Homo sapiens: one gene and its partners. The protein of the gene in region 1 interacts with the protein of each later gene in a biochemical or structural test. Each region holds a gene or a part of one and is shown in the gene's direction. Other genes may lie near its edges.

The links.
Region 2: the proteins of GRIP1 (region 1) and CGN interact in a test that uses a peptide from one of them, tested with the Homo sapiens proteins (one large-scale study listed by IntAct).
Region 3: the proteins of GRIP1 (region 1) and DLG5 interact in a test that uses a peptide from one of them, tested with the Homo sapiens proteins (one large-scale study listed by IntAct).
Region 4: the proteins of GRIP1 (region 1) and EVI5 interact in a test that uses a peptide from one of them, tested with the Homo sapiens proteins (one large-scale study listed by IntAct).

Annotation. Positions count from the first base shown.
Region 1 is NC_000012.12:66,392,577-66,397,700, reverse strand, and holds part of GRIP1 (glutamate receptor-interacting protein 1), read left to right. Parts: intron 1-3,348; coding exon 3,349-3,493; intron 3,494-4,884; coding exon 4,885-5,024; intron 5,025-5,124. UniProt on the Homo sapiens protein: May play a role as a localized scaffold for the assembly of a multiprotein signaling complex and as mediator of the trafficking of its binding partners at specific subcellular location in neurons.
Region 2 is NC_000001.11:151,528,387-151,531,984, forward strand, and holds part of CGN (cingulin), read left to right. Parts: intron 1-963; coding exon 964-1,173; exon of another isoform or gene 1,174-1,178; intron 1,179-1,522; coding exon 1,523-1,729; intron 1,730-2,102; coding exon 2,103-2,360; intron 2,361-3,598. UniProt on the Homo sapiens protein: Probably plays a role in the formation and regulation of the tight junction (TJ) paracellular permeability barrier.
Region 3 is NC_000010.11:77,920,158-77,923,755, reverse strand, and holds part of DLG5 (disks large homolog 5), read left to right. Parts: intron 1-3,598. UniProt on the Homo sapiens protein: Acts as a regulator of the Hippo signaling pathway.
Region 4 is NC_000001.11:92,778,511-92,782,108, reverse strand, and holds part of EVI5 (ecotropic viral integration site 5 protein homolog), read left to right. Parts: intron 1-3,598. UniProt on the Homo sapiens protein: Functions as a regulator of cell cycle progression by stabilizing the FBXO5 protein and promoting cyclin-A accumulation during interphase. May play a role in cytokinesis.

The DNA of each region.
Region 1 (5,124 bases):
TAACGTATGCCTAAAAAATACTCTTTCAAAACACATAACTAAATATCATCATTAGCAATATTTTTAATCTTATAAAATATTCACTCAATGTTCACATTTCCCTGATATATATAAAATCCTAATTAAAACCAACTGTTTTTTTAAAGCAATCTATCTGATAGAAAAACACATAGCTTTTTTTTTTTTTTTAGAGGGTGTCTTGCTGTGTCACTCACCCTGGAGTGCAGTGGCACAGTCTTGGCTCACTGCAACCTCCACCTCCCAGGTTTAAGCGATTCTCCTGCCTCAGCCTCCTGAGTAGGTGGGACTACAGGCACGTGCCACCACACTTGGCTAATTTTTGTATTTTTAGTAGAGACGGGGTTTTGGACATGTTGGCCAGTGTGATCTCAAACTCCTGACCTAAGGTGATCCGCCTACTTTGGCCTCCCAAAGTGCTGGGATTACAGCCGTGAGCCACTGCGCCTGGCCAATAGATACCTTTTTATAACAGTTGGTTTTATTAGAATCCCAAATGATCTACTCATTGCTTTTGATTGTAATGTCTCTTAAATCTCCCTTTTCTCTTTTTTTTTTTTTTTTTTTTTTTTGAGACAGAGTCTCGCTCCATCGCCCAGGCTGGAGAGCAGTGACATGATCTCAGCTCACTGCAACTTCCACTTCCTGGGTTCAAGTGATTCTCCTGCTTCAGCCTTCTAAATAGCTGGGACTACAGGCACGAGGCACCATGCCTGGCTAATTTTTGTATTTTTAGTTAAGACGGGGATTCATCACGTTGGCCAGGCTGGTCTTGAACTCCTGACCTCAGGTGGTCCACCCACCTTGGCCTCCCAAAGCGCTGGGATTACAGGTGTGAGCCACTGCACCTGGCCAAATCTCCTTTCTCTTTTGTGTTTCTGGCAATTTATTTGTTAAAGAAAACAGAAATCAGCTTCCATTTCTGTCATAATTTAAATAGAATATCATGTCATCCTGTTTCCACCCCAATGTAATCACAGGAATGTGTCCTTCTTAGTTAAGAGGTACCATTTCCCAGATTTGCATCTCCATCACTATCTAAACTCATTGGGTGACCTAACAATTGCCTTCTAGTCAGTGAGGACTCAGATGCCAATAAAAAAATGTCTCCAAATAAGGCAGCCTGAAACAGACTATCCTAAAGCCATTCACTTCATCTCTGGTATTATTTTGTCATCTTTGCGTCTCAAGTTACATTGTCAAAAAATAACATGGAATACTCACTCTGCAGAATGAGCTGAGTAGAACCAGGTGCCCCCCTTCTCCCAATGAATGGGACTACCCCCAACTCCCCTTCCATAGTCCAGTGTTTGTTTTCATCTTGACTGCAGTTTCAATGGACACTTCCCACTGGTTCTTGGGTCTCCAGGTCCTGGGCAACTGTCCTTCTCCCCAAAACCCATAAAGAGCAGATGCTCCAACCCAAAATGCTTGGCACCCATTGACAAGTTTGTGCTCATGCTTGCCTTATGCAGAGAGCAATAAGGGGTCAAGGTCTTTCCTATGGCATACACACCTCCACTGAATGGCCCACACAGAGTGTCCAGCAGTAACTAATGTTCAACTGTGCCAGGGACTACTAATCAAATGACTCATTCAGAATTTCATCCAGGATATTGTTGATGATGAGGGCTGCAAAGTACATGTAATCTATCCAATAGTACTCTGTTCATTTAGGTCAAAGCCAGCTCTGAAAGGTGACAAAATATCGTACTGTAGGAAAATTTAGACTTTTGACCTCTGCTGATTATTTGGTTACCCTCTATCTTGATGTTTCTCTCTGGAGCCCTTAGCAGATCATCACCAGCCTATTGGCCACAACTTCAGCATCAGCCCAGAAGAAACTTGTGAACCAGCAAACAGAGCTGTTTTAGGCTTGATATGGGAGCTTCTCAGCTGCTAATGTAAATTTGAGCCCAATGTTGAAGATTTTGTGCCCTAAAATGTTGACTTAAGCATTGCAGTGTGTGGTGGATGGTCTTTAGTTCTGAATGTGTGGAGTAAATACGTTGAGTAGAGCACTCAGAAAGTGGAGGTAATGGCTGCATTCAAAACTCCCAATCTATGGCCAGAAGTGAAGTAAGTGCTGGCGAGAGAGGACACATTGCTTCCCAAATGACTTGATAGACCTTTCATTTTATATTCATCATAATTCTTCACTGCAAACACAAATAATTGAATTGTTAACTCAAGCTTTGGTTTTCCTCCTTATTTTAGGATTTCATATCGTAAACGAACAGCTGCTCACTGCAAAAATGTGGCCATGTTAATGCTTCACTAGGATGTAGTCTGACTGTAAAAGCTGACTATTTTGCTAAAGTAGCCACTGAACCATTTCATTTTATCCTTAGTTGCAGAAATGAAACAGTTCCTTAACCATTCACAGCTCCCAGGCCCAAGGAATAAAACAAGAAGTGCCCAAGAACTTTAAGCATGTCAGAAGCAAATAAAACCTTTGAATTCTGAGACTTCTTATTTGCAACTCTGACACCATCACAATACCCATCACGTTGAAGGCGGCCCATGATATCTTTCTGGCCAGTGCTTTAGGCAGAGCACATTCACAAGTGTCTTCAACTATAATAATGTTGAATAGCCAAAATTAGTTTATGACAGTGTGGCAGGCTGGTCTATGCTGTTGAAACATAGCTTACAACAGCTGTTACTCCATTGAAAGAGGAGAGATGATCATTCAAACCTCCACTTTAATATCCGTAATTCACTGATAGGACTCACATTAGAAGACAGTCAGTGGAATGATATCTAAGAGATTCTAGATTTCTTGCTGTTGTCTTCAAGTTTACTTATCTAAGTTCCACTTAACCATATATATGTTATTTGTTCCAACCCTTCGCAAAATCCACTTTTCTATATCAAAAGTTAGCATGCATGTAAAGCTTAAAACGGAAACAGCGTGACCCAATGTCTGTCTTCTTTGTTACTGAGTGACTCTCTCCTCTCATATTATAATGCCTCCTCAGCCATATGTTTATTTCACAGATATTTACTGCATACTTACTAAATGCTAGGTAAGCACTGTCCTAGACATGGACACAGTTGAAAGGTCCTGCAGCCCCAGCTGGGCGGATCTCACACATTTAAAACATAAGTCATTAGGCAGTGTTCCTCTCCCCTGGCACTGACAATGATTATATCCCTGTATTTGAATGTAAGATCCTACTAAGGAAATGCTACTTCCCAAAATAATTATTTTCTGTGACATGATACTTTGACGAGGATGTTTTGAATTCTTTTATGTATGAATCTATGCATCTTACTCTTTTGCTTTTTCCAAAGAAATCAATTATGATTCCTTGGCATTTATTACAGATGAGCAAGAAAGTTCCGGAGCAATTATTTACACCGTGGAGCTTAAACGCTACGGGGGGCCCCTTGGCATCACAATTTCAGGAACTGAAGAGCCGTTTGATCCTATAATCATTTCAAGCCTCACTAAAGGGGGATTAGCTGAAAGGTAAAATTTGAAGTAACTGTTATAATTACCTGTGTCTGAGACGGGCTTCCTTCCTCACAACCACATAAAAACATGCTCCTCTCTCTGTGGTTATCTGTTGGCTTTTAAAAATCTGCACAAAGGATTGATCTTAGAGCCTGAGAACTCTCAGGCAGAGTTCCGACTTGACTCTGAGGGGCATCTTACAGGCAGTAAAAGACGTCTTGGGCTTAGCATTGATACTACTCTCTGAAATGTATAAGCTGACCACAATTGACTGAAGGCGGATTTGTATTGTGTCCATTTTGAGAGGAGGAAACTAAAGTTCAGGGAGGTTGAACAGCTTGTCCAATTTCATTCAGCAAACACTTGCTGAGCCTCTGTTACCTGACAGGTGCCACACTTAGCTGCTGTGTTTTCAGAAAAGGATGATACAGACATCATCTTCAAGGATTATGGGAAACAAAGTGTATAACCCATTTTAATAATGTCTTAAAAGCTGGAATGTCCATTTTTTCCTTTGGCAATGATGTACACACACACCCACTCCCCACCCTCCGCTAAACTGCATTTCTTTCTGAGATGTGTTGTTGGACATATAACAAACCCTATAAGCAAATCTGCCCTCCAGTAACCTAGCTCAGGAATACACAAATGCATTGTTCCTGCTAACAGTTGAAAACAGTGGCTAGCAAAATAGAGACACAGCATTGCAAAATGTTGGAGCTGCAGTGTACCTTAGAAATTAGCTCATACAGGCCAGGTGCGGTGGCTCACACCTGTAATCCCAGAACTTTGGGAGGCCGAGGTAGATGGATCACGAGGTCAGTTCAAGACCAGCCTGGCCAATGGGGAAACCTCATCTCTACTAAAAATAGAAAAATTAGCTGGGGATGGTGGTGCTTGCCTGTAATCCCAGCTACTTGGGAGGCTGAGGCTGGAGAATTGCTTGAACCCGGGATGCGGAGGTTGCAGTGAGCCAAGATCGTGCCACTGGACTCCAGCCTGGGTGACACAGTGAGGCTCTGTCTCAAAAAAAAAAAAAAAAAAAAAAAAAAATCTGTAGAAAGAAAGGATGCTCCATGCTATCCACTACATTTGTCATTCAACATTGTTCATTTTCTTGGGATTTTTAGGGTGCTTAACCAATGACTCAGCTTTCTTGGAATTAAAAAACACAGTTCATTTTAATAACTAATTAAAACAATTTTTAAAATTTTATTGGAAACTAAAAAGTAATCCACAACAGATGCAGTTATCTTATAACATTGCCCAGGAGAAAGCAAGAAGGGACTTCTGGAGATCCTTACCAAGTCTTTATTATGATGAATGTATAAGGTATGTCAGGGAATTTATATTCAGTACCATACAGGGATTATTTCTACCTCTCCTATTACTATTTGGCTTTTCAGAACTGGCGCAATCCACATAGGAGACCGAATCCTAGCCATCAATAGCAGCAGCTTGAAAGGGAAGCCTCTGAGTGAAGCCATCCATTTGTTACAGATGGCAGGAGAGACTGTCACCTTGAAAATTAAGAAACAGACAGATGGTGAGTAGTGAATTGAAAGCCACAATTAAGGATTTCCAGTGCATTTTCTTCCTTGAAAGAATGTGCTAGTGTCTGTGTGTAATTCTAGGGAAACAAATCT
Region 2 (3,598 bases), on another chromosome or scaffold:
TATAAAAGTCATCTTTGTGTACAATCCAATGGGTTTTTTTTTTCTTTTTGAGATGGAGTCTTACTCTGCTACCCAAGCTGGAGTGCAGTGGCACAATCTCGGCTCACTGCAACCTCTGCCTTCTGGTTCAAGCCATTCTCCTGCCTCAGCTTCCCAAGCAGCTGGGATTACAGGCACACACCACCACGCCCGGCTAATTTTTGTATTTTTGGTAGAGACAGGGTTTCACCATGTTGTCCAGGCTGGTTTTGAACTCCTGACCTCAGGTGATCCACCCGCCTCAGCCTCCCAAACTGCAGGCATGAGCCACTGGCGCCTGGCCCCCAGTGGTTTTTATTATATTAACAAAGTTGTACAACCATCATCACTATTTAATTACAGAACATTTTCATTACCCCCTCAAAGGCGCCAAACCCATTAGCAATAATTCCCCCCACCCAATGGCAACCACTAATCTACTTTTTGTCTCTGGATTTACCTATTCTGGATATTTAATATAATTGAATCCTATAATATATGGGCCTTAAGGGTCTGGCTTCTTTCACCTAGCATAGTGTTTTCAAGGTTTGTCCATGTGGTAGCAAGTATGAGTACTTCATTCCTTTTTATGGCTGAATAACATTCCACTCTGTGGGTATACCGTGTTTAGTCCAGTCATCAATTCGTGGACATCTGGGTTGTGTATCCATCTGGGCTATAATGAATAATGCTACTATGAACATTCGCGTATAAGTTTTTTTGTGAACACATATTTTCGGTTCTCTTGGGTTACCTAAGAGTGGAATTGCTGGTGATATAAATGGTAAATCTGTGTTTAACTTTTTGAGAAACTGCCAAACTACTTTCCAAAGTGGCCACATCAGTTTTTATTCCCTTGGCAGTGTATGAGAGTTTCAGCTTCTCCACATTCAGGTATCTTAGTCTGGCTCTGGGTGCCCCATCACCATTCCCGTTTCCTTCCAGGAGCTGCTCCGGACACAGGAGGAGCTTAAGGAACTGCAGGCAGAACGGCAGAGCCAGGAGGTGGCTGGGCGACACCGGGACCGGGAGTTGGAGAAGCAGCTGGCGGTCCTGAGGGTCGAGGCTGATCGAGGTCGGGAGCTGGAAGAACAGAACCTCCAGCTACAAAAGACCCTCCAGCAACTGCGACAGGACTGTGAAGAGGCTTCCAAGGCAAGGGGAGTGGGCACAGGGCTTAGGAGGTGGAGGCTGAGGGTGTCTGGAGGGCTGAGGAGCCAGAGGGTGTGGAAAGTTACCTGTCATGGGTATGTACTGACCAGCTCCTGGGTCCTAGGCATGTGGTTCAAAGAAGCCAGGATTTGGCAGGGGGAGGATACCTGTATCTGTGTAGGGGTGGGATTCTCAGAGAAGCGTCTGGCTGGTGGCAGCTGCTCTCTTTAAGCCTCATTCTTATGGGCTGTCTTTGGGATGGCTTTCCTGGGTGTGGTCAATGGCCCCAAGCCCTGGGGTCTGAGCTGCCACGCCCTGGGGTCTGAGCTGCCACCCCCTGAACCGTCCTTAGGCTAAGATGGTGGCCGAGGCAGAGGCAACAGTGCTGGGGCAGCGGCGGGCCGCAGTGGAGACGACGCTTCGGGAGACCCAGGAGGAAAATGACGAATTCCGCCGGCGCATCCTGGGTTTGGAGCAGCAGCTGAAGGAGACTCGAGGTCTGGTGGATGGTGGGGAAGCGGTGGAGGCACGACTACGGGACAAGCTGCAGCGGCTGGAGGTCAGTGGTTCTGCCCTCCCAGCCCTCTCTGCTCAGCCCTGGTGAAATACTCCTATGCTAAGTAGTTAGCCATCAGTTTCACTTTGCCCTTAGTGTGCATCTGTTTTGCCTCCCCAAACCTGCTCTGTTAACCTTGGGTTTATTTCCTGGTGTATACTTTGGCGCCAATGTTCAGTCTTTGCACTGGTAGTTTTGTTTCTTATTTCTCACCCTTTGCTTGCTCTATGTGTCCTGATTTCTTTGCTAGGAGCCTGTTTTCATTGCACATCATTTTCATAAATACCTCCTTTCTCCTGCCCAGCTACCCACCTCCAAATGACTTGAACCCAAGTTTTACCTTTTCTCAGTCCAACCCTGCTTCCCTACCTCCCAGGCAGAGAAACAGCAGCTGGAGGAGGCCCTGAATGCGTCCCAGGAAGAGGAGGGGAGTCTGGCAGCAGCCAAGCGGGCACTGGAGGCACGCCTAGAGGAGGCTCAGCGGGGGCTGGCCCGCCTGGGGCAGGAGCAGCAGACACTGAACCGGGCCCTGGAGGAGGAAGGGAAGCAGCGGGAGGTGCTCCGGCGAGGCAAGGCTGAGCTGGAGGAGCAGAAGCGTTTGCTGGACAGGACTGTGGACCGACTGAACAAGGAGGTGGGGCATGGGGTATTCTGGGCCTTTAGGAAGAGGCCCAGCTCATCCAGAAGCTGGCCTGAGAGGACAGGGGCTTGGGGGAGAGGGGTTAGTCAGAATGTGTGATGATTATGGCCAGGTGCGGTGACTCACTCCTGTAATTCCAGCACTTTGAGAGGCTGAGGTAGGCAGATACCCGAGGTCAGGAGTTTGAGACCAGCCTGGCCAACATAGCAAAACTCTGTCTCTACTAAAAATACAAAAAATTAGCCGGGCTTGGTGGCTCATGCCTGTAGTCCCAGCTACTCAGGAGGGTGATGCAGGAGAGTCACTTGCACCCGGAAGGTGGAGGTTGCAGTGAGGCGAGATCATGCCACTGCACTTCAGCCTGGGTGACAGAGCAAGACTCTGTCTTAAGAAAAAAAAAAAAAGAATGTGTGATGTTTGCTTTCCTCAAGTTCATTGTTAGGAAGACCAAGACCAAATCTTCTGGAAGGGGCATCCTTCCTACCTCCCCTCCATGTTTTTGCTCTTTCCCTTACATCCTATTCCTTTATGGTCTTCATTCTTGGAGAACATCTCCTGGGATTCTCCCTTGGGAGTCTACAAAACCTAAATACAAGAATCTTCAATGGCCAGCTTGGGCAACATAATAAGACTCTGTCTCTACTTAAAAATAAAATTAGCCTGCTGTGGTGGCTTGTTCCTCAGTTTCTCTTTATAGATGGGGAATTGAGACCCAGAGAAGATAAGTAACTTGCCTATGGTTGCTAATTAGTGGTAGAGCCAGGATTTGAACCCAGACATCTGTATTCCCAGCTACTCGGAAGGCTGACGTAGGATTGCTTGAGCCCAGGAGGTTGAGGCTGCAGTGAGCTGTGACTGCCCCACTGCGCTACAGCAAGAGCCTGTCAAAAAAAAAAATCTTCATTGGTAGAATTTTAAATTTGGGTGAGGGGAAGGAGAAAAGAAAGAAAAAAGAAAAGGAAATAAATTGCTTTTGCTGCTAAGGTTCTCCTCCCAATCTTTTTGTAAAGCAAGAGCAAACACGTAATATGTTACATCAATTCTAAAGTGCACATTTTATCATTTGTCAATGAAAAATGCACATCTTATCATTTGTCAATGAAAAATGCACATCTTATCATTTGTCAATGAAAAATGCACATCTTATCATTTGTCAATGAAAAATGCACATTTTATCATTTCTGAAATAGAGTTGTGTCTTATACCTTATGGTATGTTATAGTTTAATTGGC
Region 3 (3,598 bases), on another chromosome or scaffold:
GACAGGGTCTCACTGTGTCACCCAGGCTGGAGTGCAGTGGCACAATCTCGGCTCACTGCAGCCTCCGCCTCCTGGTCTCAAGCCATCCTCCTGCCTCAGCCCCGCAAGTAGCTGGGACCACAGGCACATGCCACCACACCAGCTAATTTTTGTATATTGTGTAGAGATGGCATTTCTCCATGTTGTCTAGGATGGTCTCGAACTCCTGAGCTCAAGCGATCTGCTTGCCTCAGCCTCCCAAAAGTGTTGGGATTACAGGCGTGAGCCACTGCCCCGGCGCAGGGGAGGCTCCTTTGTGAAGGGTAAATTGCTGTGTTGTAGGTCTCCACTTTTTTGCTTTTTTTTCTTTTAGCCAGGAAGTATTCCTTATGGTCAAAGCTCAGTGCATAAGAGAGCGGCTCTGGCTGAAGGAATGGAAGTCTTCTTCCTTGAGGAGCCATAGTCAGGAAAACCCAGCACTTGGTCCTGCCTCCTTCCACTCCTGAGTGATTTCCACTCTGTGCTCTGGGCAGCAGCTCTGGGTTTGAATTGGCCTCAGTTCGAGGCCATTGCGGAGCCTGAGAGAGGAACCAGCTGGCTCCCTGGGATCCTTAGCGTCAAGGGGTGGCTGCTTTGGCACCGATTCTCTGTTGGAGATGATGCCATCACCCACCTAGGAGCTTCCTTGATGGATTCCACACCCTGTGTGGGCTCCTGATCCAGAATGCCCATCCCCCACTGGCACTTGGGTGCTGAGGGAGTCTGCATCGGCAGCAGCCTACCACGTGGGGCCTGGAACTGGAAGGAAACTGGGGAGGACATGTGCCTGGGTGTTGGTGGGCAGGTGAGCAAACCCAACCCATCGGGGCAACTCTTGCTGAGTTAGATCCCCAGACATTTAAACCTACCACGCTCAGGCCTGGGGGTGTGGAGTGACTAGGAGACACACTGTGTTGTGGTTTTTTTGTTGGAGGTGTGGCTCTTATTCCGGTATTGATAGGGCATTGTCATTCAGGATTTTGTGTCCTATCTTCATATCTCATTAACTCTGTGGCAGCCCCAGGGAGATGAGTGGTGTCTTATGATCTTTGGTTCCAGGGCCCTGTCTGTAAGGAAGAAGTCGCAGGGCAGAAAGGTGCCTGAGTCAAGGCCAAGCCCAGTGCCCCTGATTCCTTGTCTGGGGTGGTTTTTCCTGTTCCCTGGTTAGGCCTTCCCACTACAATTTCAGGACATTTCCAGTCACTGTGGGACTCTGAAATTATGTAGCTTTCTTTTGTCCCGGATTTGATACATGGATCTGCGGGGAACAAGCGAACACCTTTGCCCCAGCTGGTGGTAGGGAGAAGACAGAATTGTTTACTTCTGAGTGGCTCAGTTGGGTCTCTTGTTTTTCCCAGTAACCAAGTCTAGCTTGGTCACTTGGAGCCCCATGCAGTCCTTTGTTTTTTCCCTTTGATTTGGGGAAACACCTGAGTTTTTTCCCTTGAGGATTCTCAACTCCCTGCCCCTGGGGTGAGCCTCAGTATCTTCATCTGTAAGATGGGGCTAATGGTGCTGCACTGCCTGCCTCTGTCACCGGGAGCATTGAAGTGCCTGGCCCAGGTGGGGCTGGGGTGTAGACAGGGGCCGGGGTGCACAGGATGTAATTCTAGTCCGTAGCTTGCCGCCTTGTTGGGGGAATGGGACGCTCATGAGAGTGACATTATGAGACAGGTCAACTGATAGAGATGCACAAACAGGCTTTTTCTTTTATAAAAAACTCGGTATGCTACACACTTTCCCCAGATACTCTCATTCACCTTTAGTGGCTCTCATTACCATCTAAATGTGGGACTCCTCAAGTCATTCCCACCAGGCCTCTATTGGGAGGCAGAAATGGCAGAACTTGGCTGGACCTCTCGCGTGCTCATTGCCTGATGTTTCCTTCTCGTTCCCACTCCCCACACCTCCTGTGCCTCCTCTTTACTTTCCTAGTGAACTGGCTGGCTTGCTTCATCAAACTTAAGAGAATGGAGCCAGCAGCGTCCGCTGGAGAAGCCGAGGAGAGCTTCACGAATGTGCTGGGACTTGGTGTTGAAGTGAAGCTCTGAATGCATGGAGCCATGGAGGGAGGACGTGTGGGCTGCGTAGGCTGGACCGCACAGGCTGAGCCATAGAGAGGAGCCATGTGTTTACCCAGCCTGAGCAGAGCAGGGGTTTGGCCTTGGCTCTGGGTGGAAGGGAATTGGGGATGCAGAGGTAATCTGGAGGACCTTAATGGCTAGGCTGAGTGGGAGGTTTGAATTTAGGCATTGTACACTGTCAGAAATTAGAGCTGGAAGTTTGTTTTTTTTCCCCAAGGGAATAACCCTGCCAGGCTTTTCTAGTGGGACTAATGCAGATGGGTGCTGATTGTCAGGTGTGGGTTATTTATTATTCAGCAGAGGTTGCCTGGCCTTTTGTTCTCTCTCCACTTCCTTCGGGTACCAGCCACCTTTTCTTCATCCCCTCTGCCCTGGAGGGTCAGCAGGGCAAGGGACATAAGTAAAAGCTCCAGCTGTTGTGGTTTTTCTTTTGGTTCTTTTGTTTGTTTATTTACTTATTTTTTAGAGACAGTGGAGTGCAGTGGTGCAATCATAGCTCACTGCAGCCTCAAACTCCTGGGCTCAAGCCATCCTCCTGCCTCAGCCTCCTTAGTAGCTAAGATTACAGGCGCATGCCACCCTGCATGGCTAATTTAGGTGGTTTTAATTGTGTTATTTAAGAGGAAGTGGCAGAGTCATTTGAAATTAATGGTTGAGAAGAGGTTTTTAAGTGAAGGGCAGATTTTATCTGTGTATCATTTCAGGGTACCTTTATTGCAAAATGACAGAAACTTAGCTCAGATCATCTTAGGTAGAAAAAGAGAAATGTATTGACTTAGAATATTCCACAACCTTTGGATGGATGGTGGAAACTGGCCTTTGGGACGTTTGACCTCTTGGATCGATGCTGTGGGCTTTTCCCACGGGTCTGAACATGACCTCAGGCCCCTCTGTTCAGGTTCACAGCCCCTGACCAGGGAAGAAAGGGAGCTCTATCCAATCAGCCCAGGCAGACAAACCTCATGGTAGGATTCTGATTGGTCTGGCCAGTGTTATGTGTCCACATGAGGCCCGGTCACTGTGGCCAGGGCTAGAGGACTAAGACTGGCTCAGCTTTGGCACTGTGCCCAGCAGTGGAACCCCAGGGTAAGGTGATGGGCTACTGTGATTGGCAGCCCATTCCAACACTATGTGGGTTTTTAGAGGGAGGCAGAGCAGTTGTCTAAAGGAAGACAAGCAGCAGCGATGTCACGCAGGTAAAAGAGCAGATGAATGTCCACTCCAAGCATTACCACCTTTGTGCGATAATACAGTTAGCACAGGCGGTCATTGCTGGAGTGGGATGGTGGGTCTAGGTAGTAATGATCAGACCTTACAAGGTTTTAGACCTTGAGCAAGGTTTTTAACCCTTCTGAGCTTATCTCCTCTACAAAGTAATTAAAACACTAACTACTTCACTGTGCTATTTGACAATCCATGGTAGGAAAAATGGAAGAGCATTTTGTTACCCTGAGTAATATAGCACAACAGTGGCAGTAGTAGACAGCAACTAGCCT
Region 4 (3,598 bases), on another chromosome or scaffold:
TTTTGTATTTTTAGTAGAGACAGGGCTTCACCATGTTGGCCAGGGTGGTCTTGATTTCTTGACCTCATGATCCATCCACCTCGGCCTCCTAAAGTGCTGGGATTACAGGTGTGAGCCACCGTGCCTGGCCTTTTTTTTTTTTTTTTTTTTTTTTGAGACAGAATCTCACTCTGTTGCCCAGGTTGGAGTGCAGTGGCACGATCACGGCTCACTGCAATCTTGATCTCCCAAGACTCAGGTATTCCTCCTGCCTTAACCCCCAAGTAGCTGGAACTACAGATGAGCACCACCATGCCCAGCTAATTTTTGTATCTTTAGTGGAAATGGGGTTTTGCCATGTTGCATAGGCTGGTCTCGAACTCCTGGGCTCAAGTCATACACCTACACCAGCCTCAGCCTCCCAAAGTGTTGTGATTACAGGCATGAACCACTGCACCCAGCCTGAGATTCTTAATTTTAATGAAGTATACTTTATCAATCTTGTCCTTTATGGTTACTGCTTTTTGTGTCCTATTTAAGAAATCAATGCCTAACCTGAGAATATGAACATATTTTTCTGTGTTGTCTTATAGCAATTTTATTTTACTTTTTGCAAAAAAAATTTTTTTTTTTTTCAGACAGGGTCTGAAGTGCAGTGGTGCAGTCTCAGAACACTGCAACCTCCGCCTCCTGTGCTCAAGCATTCCTCCCACCTCAGCCTCCTGAGTAGCTGTGACTACGACTACAGGCATATGCCACCATGCCTGGCTAATTTTTGTATGTTTTGTAGAGTCAGGGTTTCAACATATTACCCAGGCTGGTCTCAAACTCTTGGGCTCAAGCAATCTGCCCTCTTCGGCTTCCCAAAGTGCTGGGATTACAGGTGTGAGCCACTGTACCCATCCCCTACTTTTTGCATTTAAGGTATATAATTTAGAGTAAATTCTTGATGAATCGCAGGGGTCAAGATTCACTTTTTAGGCCGGGCGTGGTGGCTCATGCCTGAAATCCCAGCACTTTGGGAGGCCGAGGCGAGCGGATCATGAGGTCAGGAGTTTGAGACCAGCCTAGCCAACATGGCGAAACCCTGTCTCTACTAAAAATACAAAAATTAGCTGGGCGTGGTGGCGGGTGCCTGTAATCCCAGCTACTCAGGAGGCTGAGGCAGGAGAATCGCTTGAACCTAGGAGGCAGAGGTTGCAGTGAGCCGAGATTGTGCCATTGCACTCTAGCCTGGGCGACAGAGTGAGACTCGGTCTCAAAAAAAAAAAAAAAAATTTACTTTTTTTTTTCTTTGAGACAAGGTCTCACTGTATCACCCAGGCTGGAGTGCAGTAACATGATCTCCACCTGCTTTGACCTCCCAAAGTGCTGGGATTTAGGCATGACCCACTGCACCGGGCCAAGATTCACTTTTTTCTATATAGACGTCTGTTTGATCCAGCACCATTTATTGCAAATACCATCCTTGTCCATCTGCACTGTGTGGCACTTTTTTTCATAAATTAGATAACAGTATGGTCAGCTAATTTATGAAATTAGTGTGGGTCTGTTTCTGGATACTTTGTTCTATTTGTATATTTGTCATCCTTGCACTAATATCACTGTATTAATGTAACTTTATAATAAGCTTTGATATGTGGTAATATAAGCTCTCCAACTTTGAGAGGTGGGCAAAGAAAGTGGGCTGTGGGCAGGGGCTGCTTTTCATCAAACACACTTCTGTTTAACCCCTTGGCTTTCAGCCTTGAGCCTTACTTTACTTTTCTTGAGTCTGGAGTCTCACAGGTGTATTAGTCTGTTCTCATGCTGCTATGAAGAATACCCAAGACGGGGTAATTTATAAAGAAAAGAGGTGTAATTGACTTACAGTGCCATATGGCTGGGGAGGCATCAGGAAACTTACAACCATGGTGGAAAGCACCTCTTCACAGGGGAACAGGAGAGCGAATGAATGCCCAGCAAAGGGTGAAGCCCCCTGTAAAACCATCAGATCTCGTGAGAACTCACTCACTATCACAATAACAGGGTGGGGGAAATTGCCCCTTTGATTCATTTATCTCCACCTGGTCCTGCCCTTGACATGTGGGGATTATTAACAATTTAAGGTGAGATTTGGGTGGGGACACAGAGCCAAATCGTATCACCAGGTCAGAGTTTCTAGAAAATAAATTTATGAGATAGGAATGGTGGCAGAGGAGGGAACCTAGACTAGAGTCCAACTGTACCTTACATAAACTTTAAACCATTTACTTTCTCTTTAGCCCCATGCCTCTCCACTGACCCTATACCTGGGAACTCCTAGGCTCCTAGATTCTGAGCCTTTCTGTGATTCTGTGAGTTAGCCAAATCAGCTTGCTTCTTTTTATTTTTTAAATTAAAAAAATTTTTATATCACTTTATCTGGCAGCCTTCTTCTGAGCCAGAATAGGCTCAGAGAGACTCCTCAGCTTGTTTCTTGATTGTATTCCCTTTTGCAGGCCAGTAGGTTCAGCCTCCTCTACTCAGTCACTTATTTCTCCATCTCTTCTTGTTTCATGGGTGCCATATCTGTTCTTATCTCTCTGAGAATGTTAAAAATCGTTTTCTTAAGCCTTTCTTTTTTTTTTTTTGAGACGGAGTCTCAGCCACCCAGGCTAGAGTGCAGTGGCGTGATCTCGGCTCACTGCAGCCACCATCTTCCGGGTACAAGCGATTCCCCGTCTCGGCCCTCCAAGTAGCTGGTATTACAGGCATCTGCCATCATGCCCAGCTAATTTTTGTATTTTTAGTAGAGCCGGGTTTTCACCATGTTGGCCAGGCTGGTCTTGAACTCCTTACCTCAGGTGATCCGTCCACCTTGGCCTCCCAAAGTGCTAGGACTACAGCTGTGAGGCACTGCACCTGGCCTAGACCTTCTTTTCCTTGCATAGTTTCTTCCAAGTTACTTTTTTTCCTATTTGGTATAGTCTTATTAGTAGAGGCCCTCCTCGGAAGACTGGTAATCCTTGGTTGTCTGTTCATGATTAACAGTGGGCTACTGAAAGCTGATGGGAAGTCCTGAACTTGTAAGTAGGACTTAAGGACATGTTGTTTTACCCTATATTCTAGAGTCTAAAGCAGTGATTCTCAGCTTCGGCTGCACATTATAATCACATGGAGAATTAAAAAAAAAAATCCCTGCTGCTAATACGTCAGAATCTCTGAGACTAGGTCCCAGGTAGGGATAGTTAAAAAAATTAGGTGTGGCTACATACAGTAAAATGCACAGAATTTAAGTGTATAGTTTGATTTTTACCATGTAACCGATATAAGATGTAGAGCATGGCAAAAAATTCTAGAAAATTCCTTCATATCCCTTTCTTCTGTTGTCTCACTCCCAGCCTAGAGGTGACCACTATTCTGATTTCTATCTCCGAAGATTAGCACCAGTATTTTTTAAAGCTGCCAAGATAATTCCAGTGTGTAGCCAAGATTGAAATAATTGATCTGGGTGGATTGTTTGAGGCTGTCTCCACTGTATTTATCTTTCCTTTTGTCCCAGTCATATTTTCCAGAGAGTATCTTCCAGTTTTCTGCTTGGAGAGTTGAGGTCTGGTTGTCAGTATCTGGGAACTCAGGAAAAGAGGGTTGGGTAAGG